2 linked regions of the Homo sapiens genome follow. The protein of the gene in region 1 interacts with the protein of each later gene in a biochemical or structural test. Each region holds a gene or a part of one and is shown on either strand. Other genes may lie near its edges.

Region 1 (3,905 bases):
CGGTATGGTGGGGCACCCCGTGTCAGCAGTTCCCACAGCAGCACACCAAATGACCACTGTGGAAAGGGGGAGGTGAGGGGACTCAACTCACCCCAAATTTGGGGGCAGGTGGGTCCCCCAGGGCTTCTACCTCCCAGAGTCCTTCAGCTGGAAATGGAAGACCCTACCCTCCACTGAGAGCTCATTCCTCAATACATCACCTGTGTCTTTCCTCTGTCTCCTCCCACTACCTCATCCTACCCAGAGTTGGGGCTGGGCAGGCCCTGGATTATCTGTGAGGAGCCAGTGAGTTCCCAGCCTCCTCTAGCCCTGGCAGGTGTCAGATTCCATCTTACATCTGCCCAAGAGGTGAGCAGATGGGCTGTGGGGGTCATCTACCCTGGGGACTCCCTGGGCTCAGATCATTCAGAGCTGAATGGGTGAGGCCCAGTGTTCTTGGGTGCCAAAGCCATGTGGACTGTAGGGCAGGTGGGGCCTCACCACATCAGACTTGGTGGTAAATCTATAGGTCTGCAGGCTCTCCAGCGCCATCCACTTCACAGGTAGGCGAGCGTGGCGATGCTGTTGAACACTATAGTACTCCCTGTCCAGGATGTCGCGGGCCAAACCAAAGTCAGCCACCTTGACTGTGAATGACTCGTCCAGCCTTAGGGGTAGGGAGAGGATCACACTTAGGACTGGCCCTTACCAGGCCCTGAACCCACCTGTTCTAGGCCCTTACAGAATTTTTTTTTTTTTTGAGACGGAGTCTCGCTCTGTCACCCAGGCTGGAGTGCAGTGGCGCGATCTCCGCTCACTGCAAGCTCTGCCTCCTGGGGTCACGCCATTCTCCCGCCTCAGCCTCCTGAGTAGCTGGGACTACAGGGGCCCGCCACCACGCCTGGCTAATCTTTTTGTATTTTTAGTAGAGACGGGGTTTCACCGTGTTAGCCAGGATGGTCTCGATCTCCTGACCTCATGATCCGCCTTCCTCAGCCTCCCAAAGTGCTGGGATTACAGACGTGAGCCACCGCGCCTGGCCAAATTTCAAAGCCACAGTGTCCAGTCCAAGTCTGCACTGGGCAGACAAAAAAAGTAAGGTGCAGAGAGGGGAGGACAAGGCTGGAGTGGGCCCTTCCCTGAGGCGGCCTTGAGCACCGCACACCCTCATGCCCTGTCCTTTTGCTTCACCCCAGCTACTCTGGACTCTCACATGCAGTTCCGCGCAGCCAGGTCCCTGTGCACAAACTTCTGCTCTGCCAGGTACTCCATGCCGCGGGCTACCTGCAGGCCAAAGCTGATGAGGTCCTTCACGGTGGGGTTCTGGGGGCACAGGTGGGTTGGTGGGCAAGGGCACAGCAGCTCCTTCTCCAGCTGCTGCCCAGCCCCCAACCCAGAGCCAGATGAACACTGACCCGCTGAGGTGAGCGGATGAACTGGAGCAGGTCACCGTGGCACATATAGGGCAGCAGCACATGGGGCAGGCCCTCAGGTGGCAACATGATACCAATGAGAGCCAGCACATTCGGGTGGTTCAGGCCACGCATGAGCAGCCCCTCTCGCAGGAAGGCCTCCACCTGCTGCATCTCTGTGATGCCTGCAGAGCAGCGCAAGTCAGGCACAGGGCAGGGCGTCCCTTTATAAGGCTCAGATGGGGAAATGGGAAATGAAGGTCTCCTGCTCAGGGTCACTCAGTAAGGTGGGAACACAGAGAAAAAGAATCCTCCCAGCCTGAGGCCCCTCCCTCTGCCTTCCCATCTTCTGCCCCACTTACGACTTAGTGACTTGATGGCACATTGGATTCGATTCTGGGCCTGGTCTATGTATTCTCCGTGGTAGACAACTCCAAAGTGGCCTGGTGTGAGGTGCATAATGAGTCGATGAGAGGGGATCCAGGGCCCAAGGCTCACACCACACATTCTCATTGGCAACCAGACCTCAGAGCACTAAACTGGCCAATCTGACATTTTATTTATTTTTAATTTTTATTTATTTTTTTTGAGACCGAGTCTCACTCTTGCCCAGGCTGAAGTGCAGTGGTGCAATCTCAACTCATTGCAACCTCTGCCTCCCAGGTTCAAGTGATTCTCCTGCCTCAGCCTCCTGAGTAGCTGGGATTACAGGCAACTGCCACTACACACAGCTAATTTTTTTGTATTTTTAGTAGAGACTGGGTTTCACCATGTTGGCCAGGCTGGTCTCAAACTCCTGATCTTGTGATTCACCCACCTAGGCCTCCCAAAGTGCTGGGATTACAGGTGTGAGCCACCACACCCGGCCCAATCTGACATTTTAAAAAAGCAGCAGGGCTGCGTGCAGTGGCTCACACCTGTAATGCCAGCACTTTGAGAGGCCAAGGCGGGTGGATCACGAGGTCAGGAGTTTGAGACCAGCCTGGCTAATATGGTGAAACCCCATCTCTAGTCCCAGCTGCTTGGGAGCCTGAGGCAGGAGGATAGCTTGAACCCGGGAGGCAGAGGTTGCAGTGAGCCAAGATCGTGTCACTGCACTCCAGCCTGAGAGACAGGGCGAGACTCCATCCCCCTCAAAGAAAAGCAGCAGAAGCCAAGCGCAGTGCGCCTGTAATCCCAGTTACTCAGGAGGCTGAGGCAAGAGAATCGCATAAGCCCAGGAGTTCAAGGCCAGCCTGGGTAACATAGTGAGATGCTGTCTTTTTTTTAAATTAAAAAAAAAAAAAAAAGGCTCATGCCTTTAATCCTAATACTTTGGGATGCTGGGGCGGGAGGATCAGCTGAGGTCAGGGGTTCAAGACCAGTCTGGCCAACATGATGAAACCCCGTCTCTACTAAAACTACAAAAATTAGACAGGTGTGGTGGCAGTGGCAGGCCCCTGTAATCCCAGCTACTCAGGAGGCTGAGGCAGGAGAAATGCTTGAATCCAGGAGGCAGAGGTTGCAGTGAGCCGAGATTGCACTACTGCACTCCAGCCTGGGCAATAGAGTGAGACTCTGTCTCAAAAAAATAAAAATAAATAAATAAGTAAATAAAGCAGGGTCGGGTGCGATGGCTCACGCCTGTAATCCCAGCACTTCGGGAGGCCGAGGCGGGCGGATCACCTGAGGTCGGGAGTTTGAGACCAGCCTGGCCAACATGATGAAACTCCATTTCTACTAAAAATACAAAAATTAGACGGGCTTGGTGGTGCACGTCTGTAATCCCAGCTACTTAGGAGGCTGAGGCAGGAGAATCACTTGAATCCGGGAGGCAGAGGTTGCAGTGAGCTGAGATCATGCCACTGCACTCCAGCCTGGGTGACAGAGTGAGGTTCTGTCTCAAAAATAAATAAATAAATAAATAAATAAATAAATAAATAAATAGGCTGGATACAGTGGCTCACGCCTGTAATCCCAGCACTTTGGGAGATCAAGGCAGGCAGATCACCTGAGGTTAGGAGTTTGAGACCAGCCTGGCCAACATGGTGAAACCCCATCTCTACTAAAAATACAAAAATTAGCCAGGTGTGGTGGCGGGCGCCTGTAATCCCAGCTACTAGGGAGGGTGAGGCAGGAGAATTGCTTGAACCTGGGAGGGGGAGGTTGCAGTGAGCCAAGATTGCACCACTGCACTCCAGCCTGGGTGATAGAGCAAGACTCCATCTTGAAAAAATAAAATAGGCCGGGCGCGGTGGCTCACACCTGTAATCCCAGCACTTTGGGAGGCTGAGGCGGGTGGATCATGAGGTCAGGAGATCGAGACCATCCTGGCTAACACGGTGAAACCCCATCTCTACTAAAAATACAAAAAATTAGCCGGGCACGGTGGCAGGCGCCTGTAGTCCCAGCTACTTGGGAGGCTGAGGCAGGAGAATGGCATGAACCTGGGAGGCGGAGCTTGCAGTGAGTCGAGATCGCGCCACTGCACTCCAGCCTGGGTGAAAGAGTGAGACTCCCTCTCAAAAAAAAAAA
Region 2 (3,905 bases), on another chromosome or scaffold:
CGAGCCCGGGGGCGGGGGCACGGCAGCGGGGCCTGAGGGACGCGCCGGGCGGCCGCGAGGACTTTGGGATCGCCTGCCCCACTTCCTACCTGCCCCTACCAGGAGCCGGAGGCAGCGGGCGCCCCAGAAGGCCCCGCAGGGCCGCCGCGCGGGGCCGGACGCGCTGGGGCCCACGGCGCTGGGAACGCGGGCCCGCAGTCGGGCCCGGGCGGCATGGGCGGCCGAGGGGCGCCCGAGCCGCCGCGGCGGTCGCCTGGAAAAGTTTCCCCGCCAGGGCTCCCCAGGGTAAGTAGCGAGGGCGCGGGGCCCGGGGCCCGGGGAAGGCAAGCGCGTCTGGGAGCCGGGCCCGAGGGGAGCCGGCCGGGCCGGGCCGTGGAGCTCTGCCCCAGGAGCGGGCTCCGCGGCCCGGGTGCTCGGGCCGGGGAGGGTCGGGGCACTGGCGCCGGTGCAGCCCTGACCCGGGTCCCCCGGGGCCCGGCTGCCCGCCGGCTTTCCGGAACTGGCCCCGGGGCCGGCCCCGAGGGTGGAGCTGCCGGGAGCAGACAGGGCGCTCCGCAGCCCACCTGAGCGCGCCGGGCCCGTCTCGGCCCCCCGGCCGTGGCTGGTACTTTTCCGCGTGGGGCCAGGGCGAGCCCTCTGACCTCAGGAAGCGCCTGCGGGGCCCCTGCTGGGGGCGGGATGGGGAGAAAATTCCGCAGGCGCCGGGTGCTCCAGCCTCCCCGCCGCCACCGGGGCTGCCGCCGGCTCGCCCACTCCGCGGCCGAGGAGGGCCTGCGTTCCGCCCGGGGAGGGGAGGAGCGGCCGGGGGCGAGGCGGGGGCTCCTTCGCTTGGGCCTCGCCCCCGCCCGCACACCTGTGCGGCCAGGACTCGGGTGCGGGATCCGCGGGCGCCGGCGGCCGGCGCAGGTAGGTCCCTGGGCTGCCTTCTGCCGCGGCCTGGCCGAGGCCCCTGTGCCCCCGCTGTGTGGCTGGACCAAGGGGCGGCCTGCTTGCCAGACAGGTCTGACGGCAGTCACTTGTCTGGTCAGAACCCGCTTTCCCATCATCCTCTACCCCCTGGCCCCTGGGGTGCAGACCCTCATCCACCGGAGAGTGTTGGGATTCCTATTCTGACTTGGGAAGTGCGAGGAGAACCCGGGTGATATGGCCTGGTGAGGGCGGGTGCTGAGCAGGTGTGGACACAGCATAGGAGATTAGCCAAGCCTGACCTCTTCTCAAGCAGGGCAGCCCTCGTTTTACTATTTCCTATATTGGGCTTCTACGGAGCATTTGATTTTTAAAAAGGATTCTGTGGCTTTTTAAAAAGTTTGAAAGCCGCTGGTCCAGCAGTTTTTACCACCAAGGAAACTGAGGCCCAGGGAGAGGAAGTGACTTGTTAAGATCATCCAGCAAATAGTGGGCAGGGACTGGGAGCGATAAATTCACGGGAGCCTCCCAGGGCTGGTAACAGGACCCCGCGTGGTGTCTCTGCTAGAGGGAGAGACTGATTGGGTGTCCGAGTGGCCCTCCCGTGGCCTGCTCTGTGGCTGTGTCAGAGCCAGACCCCCAGTGTCTGGGAAACAGCAGTCGGTCCTGGGGTGAGGCGCAATTTGAGTGGCCCAGAGTGGCTCTCTGTGTCAGGAGGTTCTGGTGCTGGAGAAAAGGGCTTTGCCCAAGAACACAGCCAGGAAGAGCACCCACAGCTCTCTCTGGCCACAGCCTGGAACAGAGTCCCATGTGAAACAAGACCATGAGAAATACAGCAAGCCTCCAGGTTTGAGACAAACTGGGACTAGAGGGTGAGTCAGAGTCTGGGATGGGGGTGGGGAGAAACCCATTCATTCATTGTTTTCAGTTCTTACTCTTTTCGGGGATCCTCCCTTGTCCCACATGCTGTGGCAGAGCCGTCTGTGGGGGTCTCATTTTCTGGAAGCCATCCCCACCCCTCACCATGGCTGGGGTTGTTGGATAGAGGGAGGCTGGCCCTCTTTCTTTGGGGGGACTGTTCAGTTGCGCCTGACGCCTGCTTTCTTTCCGAGTGCTGCAAGGTAATTAAATAGTTGGTTAATCACTTTTAACGCCAAACAGCTGCGGCTCCATCTACAGTGTGCTGGAATCTGGGCTAGACCCAGATGAACCCAGCCTCGATTTGGGGGCTCCAGCAGGACTCACAGCACGGTGGTTGGTGGTGGTGGGGGCAGGGGGGTGGTTGCATGACATCTGGACCCAAGAGGCAGCTGTTGTGGCAGCAAGAGAGAGGAGAGAGATGAGGCCCCGTTCCTATATGGCTCTGCTCCCAGGGTCCCACATCCTCTGTTAAATGAGGGACTTGGGGTGGGGGGGGCGGTCCTTCCATCCCCTAGGGCTGGGGCGCCTAGCTGCCCAGCCATTGATCAGGCCAGCTTTCTGGAACCAACCACCCAAAGCACCATGGGGCTGTGGTTCCGAGGCCTGCCCTGGAAGTCCTGTGGAGTCTGCCCGCAGGGATGTGCAGGAGCTGTATTGTAGATGTCTCCTGCCATCAGCTGTCAGGTTATTTTGGTCCAAACTGAAAATACTCCAGGAATTGTGTGTGGAGTACCCCCAGCCTGCAGGGTGGGACTGCAGCAGTCAGGGAGGCCGGTTGTGTCTAAGGGCAGCTTCTGGAGAAGCAAGGAGTTTTCTGTGGTGAGCCTGCCTCTCTAGCTCCCCAGGGCCTACGTGAGCTGGGGTGCCTTCCTTTTGGTATCCGGCAGAGTGGCCTTGGCTATGGAAGTGCTAAGGGCATCCAGGGCCCTGCTGCTGCTCAGGGAGCTTGGCACTGATATGGGATACCCCCAGCAGCACTGCTGGGACCTCCCCTAGCTTCCCCCCCTTCCTCCAGGGCCTTGGCTTCTGGCTAGTCAGGGGCACTATGTGGGGACAGTTATGTGGCCCCGGGCAGAGAGAGGTCCCGCCGTCTGTTTGCTGAAGGAGGAAAAACAACACTCGGACTATTGATTCAGTCTCACCTTGGCGCTCCTGGCTCAGCAGCCAGTGTTTGCCCTGGCTGCCTGGGCTCGGATTACGCAAGGCTGGTGGGCGTGGAGCAAGCAAGGGGGCAGCTGGGGGCCTCCAGGCCCAGGCAGGGCAGGGCTTGGCGGCCCCAGCGTTCCCCAGGAAACTGTAAAAACGAGTCTGGGGCCCTGACTTTGCTGATAGCGGCCATCTCAGCCATAGAGGGAGGTGAAGCCTCTGTGATCTCCACCCCCGCACCCCCTCAGGACATGGCCCCTAAAAGCACCATCCCATTTAGGGTCACCCATTTTCTTCCTAGGAGCTGTGGGGCTTTGCGAATAACTCCCTATGGCTGAATCTGCTTTGCTGAACTAGGAAACCCTAGTGAGTTGTATAGATGCCATTCATTTAAGAACCTTGAAAAGCCAACATCTTATTCCCATGTAAAACATACCTAGGTGATTTGGAGAATACAGTGACACAAAGAAGAAAATAACAATTACTTGTAATTCTCACCATCTTGAGAGAACCACCGTTAACATTTTTTAGCGTGTGTATCCTTCCAGATTTCGCTTTAGTTTGTATAAATATACATGTATAAATAGTTTTTAAAAAATAAAATGGGATTATGTGTACATACTGCTTTATAATGCATCTTCTTTACCTTGATCATGGTGAACATTTATTCATTTGTTGTTTCTGATTTTGAGTGACTCAGGGCTTGATAGTCTTCATCCTGCTTCTTCTGTTACACTTTTTTTTTTTTTTTTTTTTTTGAGAGGGAGTATCGTTCTGTCGCACAGACTGGGAATGCAGTGGCGCGATCTTGGCTCACTGCAACCTCCACCTCCTGGGCTCAAGCAATTCTTGTGCCTCAGCCTCCCAAGTCGCTGGCACTACAAGCACCCGCCACCACACTTGGCTCATGTTTGTATTTTTAGTAGAGACGA

The links.
Region 2: of the proteins of MST1R (region 1) and FURIN, one has a biochemical effect on the other in vitro, tested with the Homo sapiens proteins (one study listed by IntAct).

Annotation. Positions count from the first base shown.
Region 1 is NC_000003.12:49,890,005-49,893,909, forward strand, and holds part of MST1R (macrophage-stimulating protein receptor isoform 1 preproprotein), read right to left. Parts: intron 1,835-3,905; coding exon 1,754-1,834; intron 1,577-1,753; coding exon 1,395-1,576; intron 1,303-1,394; coding exon 1,193-1,302; intron 647-1,192; coding exon 481-646; intron 57-480; coding exon 1-56. UniProt on the Homo sapiens protein: Receptor tyrosine kinase that transduces signals from the extracellular matrix into the cytoplasm by binding to MST1 ligand. Regulates many physiological processes including cell survival, migration and differentiation.
Region 2 is NC_000015.10:90,871,321-90,875,225, forward strand, and holds part of FURIN (furin isoform 1 preproprotein), read left to right. Parts: intron 1-219; exon of another isoform or gene 220-285; intron 286-847; exon of another isoform or gene 848-906; intron 907-1,533; exon of another isoform or gene 1,534-1,778; intron 1,779-3,905. UniProt on the Homo sapiens protein: Ubiquitous endoprotease within constitutive secretory pathways capable of cleavage at the RX(K/R)R consensus motif. Mediates processing of TGFB1, an essential step in TGF-beta-1 activation.